3 separate regions of the Homo sapiens genome follow, and all the other regions are reported to be linked to region 1. Evidence: microRNA targets listed by miRTarBase, many of them from high-throughput screens and not tested one by one. Region 1 holds a microRNA gene; each other region holds the end of a gene's coding sequence.
The links. Region 1 holds the annotated microRNA hsa-miR-197-5p (CGGGUAGAGAGGGCAGUGGGAGG, at 1,514-1,536, shown strand). A microRNA usually pairs through its seed, bases 2 to 8, with sites in the 3' UTR of a target mRNA and lowers its output. Matches are read on the target gene's strand: a 7mer-m8 pairs with bases 2 to 8, a 7mer-A1 pairs with bases 2 to 7 and ends in A, and an 8mer does both.

Region 1 (5,075 bases):
GGAGGCAGAGGTTGCAGTGAGCCGAGATCGCACCACTGAATTCCAGCCTGGGCGACAGAGTGAGTCTGTTTTTTTTTTGTTTTTTTTTAAAGTCAACACAAATATTGAAAATAAGCAACTTCAGTGCACAAATAAGCTCAAAATCACTAGTGAGTGATCTATTTTTTGCCAATAAGAAGTACCATTTGTACATGACTTAAAGTGCCTTCCACCAAGAAAATTATTGAAAACTGTTGGGTCACATAACATTCCTACACTTTGGATACAGAGTATTTAGTTTTATACAAAATTAAGACAACAAGAAACCTAGGATGTCCAAACATTCATTTCATTTATTTTACTGCATTTATTTATGCAGTGAAAATTGAAAGATACACCAAATTAAAGATAAAACCCTGTGACAGATAACAGTATATGTAATAACATGAATATTTATTTACACTTGGTAGAGAAAGCAAAGCTAGCTAGCTCTAAACTAGAATGAAAGTCGTTTTGAAATGGGTACGGGGGTATATAAGGGGAATGATTGAGTCACATGTAAAAGCCTTTGTATGCCCAGTGCTAGTGTTTTCCTGAAATCTAGTGAGAATCACAAGGTACCAGAAATAATCAAATAATAAATATTAATACACTGCTGGGATAGAAGTATCTCAGTGTACCAGCATTCACTAAGCTATAAAATCTGTGACAGCAGGAATATTAAATTATGAACAACCTGGTTTATCTGTCTCCTCTTATCTTTTACCTCTCCCTACGCCCAAAATTCTCCTTAGGTTATCCAGACATTTTTACTAAGATGCTTATTTATATGTAAGAGAGATTTCCAGTAGATACAACAAAACACAAGAAATCACCTGTTCTGTTTATTCTTGCTCATGTAGGATAAAGGTCCTGAGACCTCTCAGAATCTTACGAGGTTGGAGAGTTGTTTGGAATGCTGGGTTCTGGTCTTGTCTCTGCTTCCAACCAGCTATGGAATCTTGTGTATTCTTTCAGTCTTAAATCACTCATCTGTTATCTAAAGATGGACTAAATTATTCCTTCCTGCTGTGATATTCTGTGGTTCTCATCAGATAGAAATAACATATTTGAAAATGCTTTGTAAATGTTATGATACTCAGGATTATACTGCACAGAAAAAAAAAAATCCTAAGGCAGCACCAACAAAGGTATTCAACGTAGTGGGTGGTCTTTTACAGCATTACTTTGCCCATATTCATTTTGAAGACCTGAAATGAAGTTGAACTATAAATTGCTCTAAAATTCGTGAAGCAGGGTGAAAAGGTCTTTGCTTTGTTTTACATTTAAATCCAGCTGTCTATTTTCTGCTTATACTAGTGCTTTTTCATGGCAAAAAGACAGAAAAGTTCCCTTCTGCAGTCTCCAGTGTCTTCTGACCTCACAGAAATGTTTTCATGCTTTTACCTAGCAGGACCACCAGAGGCTCTGTCACACTTGCAGTCCCTGGCCCAACACCGAAATCCTTCTGGAATCTGTGCTCTGGGGGCTGTGCCGGGTAGAGAGGGCAGTGGGAGGTAAGAGCTCTTCACCCTTCACCACCTTCTCCACCCAGCATGGCCGGCACACTTTGGTCTACGGCACATCTCCAAGTATAGAGTGGGTTTTGAATGCTGTTATGTCTCACCGTGGGGATGGGAAGGAATACTCTGTTTTGGACTATTTGGAGGTACATGTGAGTGGATTTTATTACCAGAGTAGGAACTGTTTCAAGTTAATGTGTCTTTTATGTTGCTTTTAAGACAACTTTTGTGCCGCTTTTATCCATTCTTCCTTTTATCCACAGAAATACAAATTTCTAATTATAGTATATTTTTTCTATTTTTAAAATTGTGATAAAGCATATATAACAAAATTTGCCATCTTAAGTGTACAGTTCAGTGGCATTAAGTACATTCACACTGTTGCACAGCCATCACCACCATCCATTTCCAGAACTTGTTTTCATCTTCCTGAACTGAAACTCTGTACCTGTTAAACAGTAACTCCCCATGCCCCACCTTCTTTCAGCCCCTGGTAACCAGCATTTTCCTTTGTCTCTATGAATTTGACTATTTTAGATACCTCATATAAGTGGAATCATAGTATTTGTCCTTTTGTGTCAATCATATTGTATTTTTGTCTAAAAAAGGAAAACTATCAGATTTATGTGAAATGTAACGTAATTTACATTTGATTTACTGTTAGTAATGTCTCTTTAATCATGCTATGCTAGGGAAGTACATTATGGTCTCTCCCTCTAAGAATATGAAGAGGAAATTTTACCTTCAACAAACAAGCAAACTTAGTTATATTTTTGTGATTTTATGCTGTTTTCATATTCTATTTTGAGATCTATTTGTCTTAGCTTGGAGGTGGTTTTGTTAAATGTCCACGATTTAGAGACGGCATAATGAAAAAATGACCAAGAATTTGGTTGGGAATGGGAGGAGCTTAGAAGAACAAGAAATTGGCTTTGATTTTATAGTGTATGGTGCTCTGTTGGTAGCTGGACATCATCACAGGCTTTGGATTGAGAAGACCTGTTCTGGAGTTCTAGTTCTGCTACTGCCTAGCGTTGTGATCTTGATGAAGATACTCTTCCTTCCTGGGCTTCAGTTTTTGATCTATAAATTGCTAGTGATGGGGCTGGACTATTTTTAAGTTTGTTCTAACTTTAGCAGTCTTAAGAATTAAGGTTGCATGCCAGAAAATAGGGTTAAATATTTGTTTCTGATCTGGTTACAAAAAAAAAAAAAACTTGATGGCTTAAAGTAAATAAAAATTCAACAGTACGGTGTAAATTTAAAATGAGGCAAAAGAAAGATAATGACTTAATTTTTATTTTAATCTTTCTTATAGCTGTTTTATATAAGAACTTTTCATGAATACAATCAAAATGTCCATGAGATAAAAATAAGCTAATTGTGCAGGAAAAGTACAAATGCACTTTTTCTGCAGCTCTAACATGTAAGGTTTGGGAACAATCGTTGGGCCTGACAAACAGTTGAGCTAGGGTAAGGGTGAATGCCTTTTCTGGAAGCCTATCAAGAGCATCGAGGTGAAGTCCTCTTACCTTTAATCATGGGAGAGCCCATTCTGGACCAAGGGTTTGAGAAAATTATTCTGACTGTGTTCTAAGGTAATAGGTGAATGGGTGCTCAAGGGCCCCTGTTGCATTTCATGTAGACTTGCCAGAAGAGTTTTAGCTTGAAAACATCATAAGATGAATATAGGCAGATCCCAAACTCAGTAAAAAAACAGCTATAGAATGTTGCTCTATCCTCCAAGATGAACACTTTACATAATGTTTGTACAAGGTGGCTTGTGTGAGTTTGTTGATAAACCAGTTAAAAGTTGGGATATCCCCCAGCTATCCCAAAAGAAGAGGACTAAATACAACCATGTTTTAGTCTGCTAGAGACTTGTGTTCTGACCTAAGACCTGTCAGAAGACCTGTCCCACTGGCTCTGCTTCTGTACTAGTACTATAAGGCAGGTTCTGTGTGAACATTAATAACCAAGGATCCTGAGTTAGACTTATAGTTTGGTCAATAACCAATTTATACCTAGATTGAAAGACCAAGGAAAAGTTAATAAAATAATCAACAATCTGGTACTATTTGAGGGAAAGTAGGGCTATCCTATTTGGAGATGGAATAAATGGGATAAATTATGTTTGGGGCCTGAATAGACAAGATCATAGCTTGTATAGTAAGGGTTCTTAACCTGGGGCTTCAGAGCTCCAGCGAGTCTACAGAGAGACTATTTGATATGCTAGTTTTCTTTGTATTTCTCTGAATTTAATTTTACGTGTTTAAAAATATGATGATGAAAAGAGGCACATGGTTTCATCAGATTGCCGGAAGGATCCATGATACAAAACAGATTCAGAACTCCTGTATGTTGAGTTAAAGTGAACAGATTAGTAATGGTTGGAGCATGATATTCAGAGTAGTTCCTGAACAGCTCTTGAATATGAGAAGTCTTTCCCAGGTTTTTTGTTTTGTTTTGTTTTGTTTTGAGATGGAATCTCACTGTCGCCCAGGCTGGAAGTGCAGTGGCATGATCTTGGCTCACTGCAAACGCCTCCTGGGTTCAGGTGATTCTCCTGCCTCAGCCTCCTGAATAGCTGGGATTACAGGCAGGCACCACAACGCCTGGCTAATTTTTGTATTTTTAGTAGAGACGGGGTTTTGCCCTGTTAGCCAGGCTGGTCTCAAACCCCTGACCTCAGGTGATCCACCTGCCTTGGCCTCCCAAAGTGCTAGGATTACAGGTGTGAGCCACCGTGCCCAGCCAGGTTTGTTCTTTGGCTTGAGTTTTTTCATCAGCAGTAGCCAGAGTAGTTTCTCGGATAATTCTCCCAAGCTGCTTTCTTTTTAGGGAATCAGAAAGACTATTAAATGAGTTTAACTTTTATAGCTACAAATTTATTCTTAAGTGTATTTCAAGCTCATATGGCTCTCTAGTATTAATATTGCTAGTAGCAGCCTAAGTGTGAGTGGGTGTTTCTGGCAAGGAGCAATTTCCATTTTAATTGACATTTTCTTCTATGTACTAAATCTTGGATGCCAAGAGCTTTCCTCACTGGTAGTTGTAAATGCTAAATCTATATACTTAACTTCATCCCCTTCTGTCAAGATAAATGCAAACTTCATTTCCCCTCAAAGGAGTTCAAAGGAAAACTTCTTGGCGTGTTTGGGGAGATGTTTTCATCCACCATCACATGGACCCAACTGCAAAGATTTTCAGTGCCTAAAACAAGCTCACCTGTCTTGGTTCTTCTGAAACACGTAGCAGTTGAAAAGTTTAGAATTGTTCACTTGTTCCAAATTCTATGATAGAGAGGCGGCAGCAATACATTCATTAATACTCTAAATGAGAGTATTTGATGTCCTCTAAGTTTATTCAGGAAGTATCTTATGTAGCTAAGAAACATTTGTAGAGATAAAGGTCTGTTTGATAGCCTGGGGGCAGAGGGATAATGTTTGCTTAATAAAGATGATCGTTTTGGGATGTGCCTTAGAAACTAACAAACTCGCATCTCCTATCCAGTGATCCAGATCTCTGAGCTAA
Region 2 (5,075 bases), not on the chromosome of region 1:
GCTTGAACCCAGGAGGCAGAGGTTGTAGTGAGCCAATATCACGCCATTGCACTCCAGCCTGGGCAACAAGAGCGAAACTCCATCTCAAAAAATAAAATAATAAATAAAATATAAAATACAGTTCCAGATAAATGGATCTTTTGTGTGTGGTGTGTAAGTATATCCCCAATGTTGCGTGGGCTAGACTTATACTAAAAGAATTCTGTGTTAACCAGAACTCCAGTTTCACTGGGCATCCTGTACTGTGTCTGGAAGCCTCCCTCAGAGACAAAGTCACTTGCCATGGGTCACCCAGCAGGTTGTTAGAGCCTGGGATGGGGAAACTGAGGTCACAGGGTTGCAGGAGGTGGGGGGTGAGCGTGGGAAGAGGTAAACCATGTCTGCAGCAGAGTCTGACCCCTCGACTTCTCTCCCTTTTTCTCTCTCCCTCTTTCTGTCGCCACTGGGCCACTCAGTCCTGGTATCTGGGATAGCAAAGGTCTTCTTCCCTCGCCCCTTCTCCATCGTCCCAGGAATCCCAGGGGGCAGCACAGCCGGCCCCCGGCCCACGTTTTCGGTGGAAAATTAGAGTGAACAAGAACACCCCTGCCGACTCCCAGCCCGGCCAAAAAGACAAAACACATAGACGCACACACTCAGGAGGAAAAGAAAAAACAAAGGCAGAAGAAGAAGAAGAAGAAATAAAAACCCACCCAAGCAAGAAGACAAAAGGTAAAGACGCAACGTTTCCAACTCTCGGGACGCCAAGGCCGCAGGACTGGAGGGCCAGGCCCCGCCACCCCCACGGGAGACCCGGGACAGGGCGTCTTCCTAAGTTATTCATCTCCTCTCCGCCTGCTGCTCGGGAAGGACAGACGCCGGCCGCCCGCCCGCGCCCCGGAGGCCCTGGCTCTGTCCGGAGACCAGGTGAGCACAGCCTGGAGCCTGTGCCCAGGGCCGACAGGCGCGACACCCAGCAAGGCCACCTCTCCCCGGGCCCCCGCGCCTCTGCCGGACACGGACCGGCCCCTCAGCCCCCACCGAGGACGCAGCCACTGGGGGGAAAGGGAGACACAGCGGACCCCGGCCGGGCAGCGGAGACCGCAGAGGCGGGCAGGGTGGGGCAGGCGAGTGGTGTCGCGGGGGTGCGTGGCGCTTGCGAGCCCTGGCCAGGGGAGGAAGTGAGGCCCAGGCACCTGCTGCCCCTCGAGGGGGCCCTGCCTGCCGCGGGGCCTCCCCACAAGCCCCTCCCAAAGCGCCGGCCGACTCGCTGTCTCGCTGGGGACTCTTTCAGCCCTCGCGCCCGCCCGTTTGGGAGGAGAAGTCTCTATGCAATTGGCCCCGGCCCCTCCACCCCCCACCCCCGGCATAGGAGGCCCCCCCACCTCGCCCGGCTCACACCCCCAAAGGGAGGGACCCACATTGCACACACTGTAAGAAATGCACTTTCCGAGGAAGGGGATGGGGGAGCCCGGACACCCAGAGCTCCCCGAGTTGGGGGTGCCCGTCTGGAGCGCCCCCGTCAGCCCCTGGCGGTGGGAGGTGAGAGCGAGTGGTTTAAGTGCCTGATTACCACCACCCGCCCCCCCCTTTGTCCAGCTGGGACACGGAATGGCCGCGGGCCTCCTCCCCCTCCCCTCCAGCCTCTCCACCAGCCCCTCCAGTCAACCCTCATCGCCGTGCCCCCCCAGAGCTAGAGAGATGGGGCCCCTGCGTGGCCCGAGGGGCAGAGCTGGGCGTCACTTCGCAAGCGTCCTGCCCTGCCGGGGCGCGGGGGTGGGCTCTGGGGAAGCCGGTGCGCCCCCCACGCCTCCGCTGCCAGTGCCTTACATTCTGGAGCGACCCCCCTCCCTGGTGCCTCCCAGCGAAGGGGGACCGCCGTTTGCACTTTCATCGCCTACCCCGACGCGGGGCCCAGCTGCGGGACGTGCATCACGGCTGGGCCCCCAGAGGAGAGAGGAGGCCGACGCCAGCGGTCCCCGCTCGGAACGGGGAGGGTTTTCGGGGGGTTCGGCGTCGCACCTTGGGGCCCCCCGCAGCCGTGTAGGGGGCCTCCCATCTGCTAAGCGTTTTTCCGTTGAGCCGCTCCAAAAACACTAAGCTGGGGACGCCAGGTGCCCCCCCACCCCGGCTCCCTGGCCCTATCCACACCTCCACCCCCACCCCAGGATCGCCATCTTTAGGGGAGGCCTGGGAGGGGGTGTTAGGTGTTTTAGGGCCACCGAGCTCAAACACAAGGACCCCTCCCCGGCCCACCCAGCCCAGCCCCAACTGACCTCCATGCCTAGGGAAAAACTCCCCCCACCACTGCCCCCTCCCCCGACCCAGGCCAAAGCCAGGGCAGGTCTCCGGGTCTCACCTGCTCCTAGCCTCACCCCCCTGCCCCCGAAAACCAGACTCTCCTCCCAAACTAGCCTCAGGAGCTTGGCGAACCCGCTCGCTCCTAAAGAGAAAGACCCAGGACCCTCCCCCATCACCCCCAAGAGAGGTTCGCCATCCTCTGGCCTCGAGCCCTTGGTCCCTCCGTCCGTCTGTCCTCGGGGCCCGCTCCCCCGGTGGCCCTTGGGGATCAAAGCGTGGGCCGCTCTCCGGGAGGGCGGGCGGGGGAGGGGGTGGTCGGGTTGTGCCATTGGGGTGTCCGGAAGCTTCTCAGCCAGGGTGGGGGTCGTGGAGTGGGGGAGGGAGGCCAGCCGGGCTCCAGAGGGGTCAGGGCGCGACGAGAACCAACTCTTTACCTAACTTTGCATGGTGCTTAGTCAAGGACTCCTGCGACCTGGCTCCCGAGGTCAGCTGGCGGCGCTGACACACATGCATGGCAGACTATCCCTGGCTCTATCTCCCTGTTCCTCGCCCCCTCCACCCCCCACTTCCTCTTTAAAAAAAAAAAAAAAAAAAAAAAGATACAAGAAAAACCTTTAAAAAAATTCCATGTTTCCTAATTTGCACGAAATTTTCTACCACAAGATGTGCCTTGCCTTCCGAGAATAAGTATTACCTTTAAACAATATCAGCGCACACACATAGCTGCATGTTCTGCTCGTGTAGTTTAAAAAAAAAAAGACAAAACAGTGACATGAAATAAAAAATAAAAATTGAAAAGGGATGTATTTCTATTTGTAAAAAAAATAAAATAAAAAATAAGAAAGTGAGAATCTAAAAAAAAAAAAAAAAAAAAAAAAGGAAGAAAAACCACGCTAAAAATCAAGCCACTGAAAACAATTGCCCCCAGGTCTACCCAGCCCCTGGCTGTCCTTGGTCCTGTCTCCCCTCCTGCTGTATTCAGGGGTGCCCCCTGGTGCTCAGCCTCTACCACCCCCAACCCTGCTCTTGGGTACCCAGAGGGGTCATTTCTGAATCCCTTGCCCAGAGGACAGACCTCCGGGGCCCATCTTGGCCCTGGGAAAGGGCTCTCCTCTCTGATTGGTCCCTAGGCCACGGGCCGGCCCCCAGACACCATTCACCGACCCACTGCAGGCTGTCCTCCAACCATGGGGTGGCCACTCCACCCGCAGCCAGACTCCCCGCTCCCCACTTTTCATGCAGGCTGGCATACCCCTGGCTCAGGGTCAAATGCTGTTCCACACCCACCTCAGAGGCACCCCCTCTCCCCTGCCCCGTGCATCCCCACCCTTCTTGCCAAAGGACCTCTTTTCCCCTATCCAGAGACCACCCCAGGTGGCATTCTCTCCCACCTTCTCCTTTGTCCCCCATCCCCTGTCTCTGTCTTCCAGCTGTGAATATGAAGGGTATCCTGTATGAAACAAAAACAAAACCTGATATATGCAATATCTGTCTGTCTGTCTGTACCCATGGGCCTGGCTCAGCCATTGGAGGCCCAGCCGAGGGTCCGGCAGGGCACAGGGACAGCCAGGTGGCACCGAGTCACAGGCTGTGGTCCGGTGGCTGAGCATGCTGTTGTCTTGTCCTTGATTTTATTTTCTTTTGTTCTTTTTTTTTTTCTTTTCTTTTTGTTTTTAACTCCAGCTTCCTTTGCTTTTTACTTGACCAAAGCTAAGACAATAGCCAGATGGTTAGTGGGGCAGCCAGGCAGGGAGGACCCAGGGCTGGGATTCTCCAACCTTAGGCCATTCCTGCAGCCCTCACCACCTCCAGCCCCTCCAAGCATCTCGTGTAGGGACCCACGCAGATGGTCCCATTCATTCACTATTGCCCCCAACCCCGGGATTTTGGGTGGTCTCCACAGCCACCATCATACACTCATCCCGTGTTTTCTTCCAAAAAGTCACCTCAGCAGCCTCCCCAGGCGATACAGAGGGAGAGCCCAGACCACCACAGCTGGCCACGACATTGCCCTTAAGTAATATGCATTGGCCAGAGAGCCCGGGCTGGCTGTGCACAGCATTCATGTAGCTGATTTCTAGCTTTTTTTTTTTTTCTGCCCCACTCCTGAGCAAATCTGTCTTGCCAAGGAACTAGGAGCAACCGGAGGCAAAGGGAGTGGGTGGCCCCATCACTATTGGGACCATCGCGTCCCTGCACAGCCCACACCCGGGGGCCCAGAGTCCTGGGCTGGACGCCACCCTTCTCACCCCGAGCTTGCCTCCTTGGCTCACTTGGCACCTTGGCTGAGTACAGCAGGCAAAAGCCCATACCAGGCAGCATGTTGTGGATGGTTTAGTTCTCCCCGCCTCCCTGTTTCTTGGAAAAGCTACAGGGTCCCTGTAGGGCAAAATTCCCAGGCGCCTTGCTGCAGACAGAGTAAGACAAAAACACCAGGAAGCAGGATTCCGTGCCCATCTCTGCAGTTTGGGTTCACAAAAGGGGGTGCCGTCATCCCTGGGTGGAGGAGGGAGTGTTGGTTTTTTGTTTTTGTTTTTTTAACATGTATGAAACTGACATCTTCTCAAATCTTGTTCCACCCCCCTCTGGAAGCCCCCATCACCCACCCCTGCTATGGACACCACACCTATGCCAGGCCCCCCCCCCCACCCCAGTCTCATTCTGGGGTCTGCCCATGCTGTGGGAAAGAATAGGGAGGCCTCCCAAATATATGCAAATTGTCCCCATTCCGTGGGGGCACCTGACAATGACCCGGGTGGAGATGGGGCATGGAGGAGTAGGAAGACCCAGCCCTA
Region 3 (5,075 bases), not on the chromosome of region 1:
CTCCTGCACTTTTCTGGAAGGCAGGGTTCAAAGCTGAGTTAGTAAGGATGAATTATTAAGGCTTTGGAAAGCACTGGGCTTGAAGCTGAAGGCAGCTATTCCTTAGAATTGAGGACCAGTGAGCGAAGGTTGAACATTTTTCATTCAGCTCCAGGAATTAGAAGGTGTCTTTGAACTTTTTAAGGCCTAGCTTGGGGACAATAGCCATCAGATAAAAGGCATGAATGCTTATACCAGGGCTTCTGTGGTCTGTTCCAGATGAGTATGTGGCCAGCCTACACCTGCCTACCTTTGATGCCCACTTGACAGAGCTGACAGATGAACAGGCCAAGTATCTGGGACTCAACAAGAATGGGCCCTTCAAGCCTAATTACTACAGGTGCCTTGGGCTCCCCAGAAATCAGGGACACCTGGGCAGTGATGAGCTTCCTGCACTGGAATTGGTCTTTGCATCCCCAACCACATATGCTTACATGAACTCAGAAAAATGAACCCACTTCCCCTCACTGCCACCTTCAAAAGACTCTTCAAGGCCTTAAATAGTATTCCCCTTCCTGAATTTGCCTTTTGGAGATAGAGAGGTGGAGTTTGGGTAAGTGGCTATTTGCCTCATTAAATAAAGTTCCCCTTCCTCAATTCCTTTCCCCATTTCATCTTGTTGCTATGATTTTTATCTCTTTATGGAGAAATATTGGCCTTTTTCAATGATGTGAAAAGGAAACACAGTTATTTCCTGTCACTGTACACTCCAGAAAAGTCTCTGCCTCCCTGTTACACCTTTAGGCAGGCTCTTCATGTCCCAGCATCCCCATTAGCTGATAACATCACAGTCTCATCTTTCTTTTTCCCTCCAGGTATTAAGTTCCTGTAACTCAAACCAGAATTTTTAAGGAATAGAACTCCAAGCCTTTTCTCCACTACTATACAAGAAAGAATTCAGCAAGCTGCTTCTCCAATCAAAGCTGCCTGCCGTGCTCACCCTGTGTGTTAGGTTATTTATTTATTAAAATCAAGAATCCTGTGCCTGTAGTGTTGGCCCAGAGTGTGGTTACTGCCCTGAGGGCCATGAAAGCCACAGAGGATGGGCTGAGGAAGGAAAGAAATGGGGTTACTGCTCCCAGTGCATCATTTGCATCATTCCCCATTGACTGAATCCTCAGCAGTGGCCGTTTTTCCTCTTGTCCAGGCTCACGAGTTAGTCCAGGGATTCCATACTCCCTATTCCCTGGAGTTTTCTGGAATAAATTTTCAGCACCTGCTTTTCTCAGCTTGGCCCTTCCCCGGGTGAGGCCGTTTGGAATTAACATGGCCAGTGTTTCACACAAGATTGGGTTCCCAATCTTGACCATCACTATCACTGCCTTCTTTATATAAAGGCTAATAAGGAAGGAGTGTTATTTATGGCTTTGCCAAGCTACATCAAGAACTCAGCTGTGCTGTGCCTACCAGGGGTCTCCTTTCTTACCCAGGACTCCTTTCTTCTCCTTGAATATTTATGTCCATTTTAACACTTCCTGGTTGCAAGAGGGATGTGCCTCCATTATTTCCTCCACAGTTTTGGTATTTGTCAGACATTTGTTCTGCTGTCTTTCTAATCCAGCCAACGTCTGCTCAGGAAGTGGGGCCAGCTCCACTGGGACCCATAGTTTTACTTCCTTGTCATTTGATTGGATAGTTTCCAAGGAAGCCCCTCCAGATTGGCACTATCTCAGAAAAGGAGAGCTTGTTGTGAAACACTGCTTCCTGAAACTTCCTGCTATTGCCTAAAGCTACGTCTGAAACTGAGTAGGGAAAGGCATACTTTTCCAGGGACTTAGGGGGATAGGCTTTGGAAATGGGACAGGTCTTTCAGACTCACAGCTTGATACCCTAACAAAGCAGAGTATATTTATTTGTTTCCCAGGAAGGCCATTGCAGTTTGACTGGCTGAGGGATACAGAGATGAAATTGTAAACTGTATCCAGATTATCAAAGCTAATTTGACTAGTTTGAACCTCGTCAGACATTCATTCCTTTGGCCATTGCCATGGATGAAACCGAGATCTGCAGTCTGATCTGTGGACTTCTCTGCTGGCATATCTTTTATGATTTAACCTCTTCCATTTGATGATTCTGTATTTCAGAGTCAGTTTCTTGAGTAACTCCAGTGCTACAAAAAGAATTAGTAATGTGGTGTGGGCAGCGTGACATTTTATGTCCCACCCAAAAATTGGATTCCTTTTGGAGACTGATCTGTTGGTCTCAGGCATTTCATTAGGACCAGATTGGTTCTAAGAGTTAGTCTGGACTGGCCCTAGGAAACTTGAATTAAATAAGCCTCTTCCCCTTACCGATCCTTTTTAACACTCTCAGGTTTGTTTGTTTCCCACTTTTTTCCTATGCTGGTCTGCCTCAAAGTCTCAAGACCAAGGTGACTCAAGATAACACCAGACCACGCATGATCACCAAAACCTTCCCATCCTGATTCTCTTCTTCTACCTCTACCCTCTCCAACTTCTCCTGGTCTTCACATATACTCTCAAAGCTAGTCTGAAAGTGACCTTACTTTCGGAAGTAGGGAAGTGGAACTTTGGTAAATGACTGTTTGCCTCATTTAATAGTATACAGGCTCAGCCCATAGACTACAGTTCTTCAGAGGCCATATGTCTCAGCAAGTACTGGTTATATTCTTTTTTTGTAAGGAAGATCATAAATGCTAAAAATTCCACTAAGCCATTCAGTTCTTCCTTTTGCCTACCTAGTCCTGATTTTTGTATTAATTGGTTCCCTTTAGCAAGGGATTCAGATCTTTGTACCTTATCTTATATCCAGAGCAGATTCCATTTGGCAGATAGATGGTCTCTAGCCTATTGTATTCTTAGACCAAAAATCATAACCTGCTGTTTCTCAGCAAAGCCTTGCTCTCTGGAGCTTACTATGTGCTGGTACTTAAAGAGTACATTCTGCCTTGCTGTAGTGAAGAGACCCACTCCAAATAAAAAAGGGGCCACACGGGGCTTCTAAGTTAGGTTGCCAGTGTTGCTGCCCATGATGAGTTATTTGCCTCTGAGTTTCAGATGACCTCTCTGTAGGGACACTGTGTTATCAACCATTAAGAAGAAAGAACCACAAGCCTCCCAAGTATTTGGGTTCTATCTTAGGGTTGAAATCTGGTCATTATTCCCTCTACCCTTGGAATCAGAGCAATGTGTCTTCTTTCCTCCAACCTCTTACCTTAGATGCATCCTGGTTATCTGGAAGCATGGGAAAGAAGGCTACTTATCTCTTTGTATGTGGCTCCAGTCTGTGAGGATACATAACATTTTCTCTACAATGAATCTGTGCTAATATTTTGCCTTCTTTCTTTCTTTTCTTTTCACCCTTAGAGACAGGGTTTCACTATGTTGCCCAGGCTGGTCTCAAACTCCTGGGCTCAAGCAATCCTCCTGCCTCAGCTTCCTGAGTAGCTGGAACCACAGGTGTGTGCTACCGTGCCTGGCACTTTTTTGCCTTCTTAATGGAGATATTCAGTTTTCTTTTTTTCATTTAAACAAAGAAAAAAAATGTATCTACTCTACCTTCCCTCTGCTCTCCTCCCTCCCTATCCTACTTGCCCATATGAGCACGGCTCCCCATGGCCACATACTCCTGCAAAGCTTTTATGCTGCTTCGCTTTTCTCTAAACAGATCTGATATTGCTGCTCCTGTGGTTTTCTCAAAATTAACTTTGCCGTGGTTTTTAAAAAGGAATCAAAATGCATTGTTGCATTAAGCTTTTTCAATAAAGGAAAATTACGGAAGGAAAATAGGCAACACCAGCAAATTATATGTGGACAGGTTCTAAACTCTATATATACATATATATATATATATCTATATATCTATATACGTAATCATCTAGTTCTGTCATCTTACTGAAAGGAATAACACTTCTAAAGATCACCATTTCTGAGAAGTTCTTGGAAATCTTTATGTCTAAGTGATTGTATTAGATCAGCAATAATGACTATGTAATCTCAAAAAACAAATAAAATATTCTTAACATGGACTCTTAAGGGTATTTCTTGTTTCTGTGAACTAGAAATTCAGAGATGAGAGAGATCTCTGGGCAACAAACTAGAGATCCTGCTGTAGGGCAAGGATGTGAAAATGTTACCAATGGGCATGTTTGACCTTAGGATGTGAAAATGTTACCAATAGGCATGTTTGACCTTAGTTAATAAATATCATGTTCCCCTCCTACCAGCCAGCATACACGCGCATCCTGGCTGTGTGTGTAAAGAACCTGTCTTCTCAGAACCACCACCCTGGGGAGTCGAGGACTGTAGGCTTAACTCAGAGAAACTAAACCATAGTTCTAGGTCCCTGACTCCCTTTTAGTTGAAAAATGCAGGAAATCAGCATCCCCCAGTTTGGGACCAAAGGACCTTGATAACTAGGACCTGATTATATCCAGCCAAAGGGAAGAAAGAAGTGCATCAGGCAGAGATTTGTCTCTAAATCAAGTTGCCTGATTTAACCAAAGGATAATCCAATTGCCTATTCTTTCTCAACTGCCAGTAGGGTAACCATCTTTGGGTAGCTTTCTGATAGCCACCTTCTTTAGTTGACTACCTAAACTAGTTCTGCATCCTGTATGCAAGATGTTTTCTTTTCATAGCAGAATCTTCTGCCACTTTGGCTTCTGATTATTTAGATTAAGGGACACAGGGCTAGAATCGTCTGGGCAGTCAGTAATCCTCAAAATTAGTGCCATTCCAGTTAAGAGGAGGAGAATGCAGCAGCTAGCAATGAAGCCGGTCAGCTCAAAGGATTTGCTCCCCTGCAGTAGGGCTTGACTCCTCATTTGTGAAGGATGGAACCTTGGGTGCCTGGGTCTTTATTTCAGAATCATAGGGTAAGCCCAAGCTATCCACTGCTGCACAAGTTTCTCCACCTCACAATATTGTGCAAAAAAACTTGAACTTTAAAGCAGGCTAGCTTGGGTTTGAATCCCAGCTCTGCCATTTACAAGTTATGTAACTTAGTCAAATTACATAACCACTCACAGCCTCAATTTTCTTGCCTGTGAAATGGATACTGCTTATCTCCTAGGA

Region 2: miRTarBase lists NFIC as a target of hsa-miR-197-5p. Seed matches in the 3' UTR shown: 8mer at 3,210-3,217.
Region 3: miRTarBase lists AHCYL2 as a target of hsa-miR-197-5p. Seed matches in the 3' UTR shown: 7mer-m8 at 2,480-2,486 and 7mer-m8 at 3,165-3,171.

The regions. Positions count from the first base shown.
Region 1 is chr1:109,597,388-109,602,462 of GRCh38, forward strand. MIR197 (microRNA 197) reads left to right here and starts at 1,506; the gene lies at 1,506-1,580. GNAI3 (G protein subunit alpha i3) reads left to right here. Exons shown (of 9, transcript NM_006496.4): 9 at 1-2,808.
Region 2 is chr19:3,462,297-3,467,371 of GRCh38, forward strand. It overlaps NFIC (nuclear factor I C), which reads left to right. Exons shown (of 11, transcript NM_001245002.2): 11 at 456-5,075. The coding sequence ends at 473. Among named protein-coding and RNA genes, the nearest start is that of SMIM24, 16 kb to the right of the region's middle. RefSeq lists enhancers at 243-778, 779-1,314, 2,896-3,396, 3,397-3,897 and a silencer at 1,766-1,966.
Region 3 is chr7:129,426,185-129,431,259 of GRCh38, forward strand. It overlaps AHCYL2 (adenosylhomocysteinase like 2), which reads left to right. Exons shown (of 17, transcript NM_015328.4): 16 at 259-379; 17 at 855-4,027. The coding sequence ends at 861. Among named protein-coding and RNA genes, the nearest start is that of STRIP2, 5.7 kb to the right of the region's middle.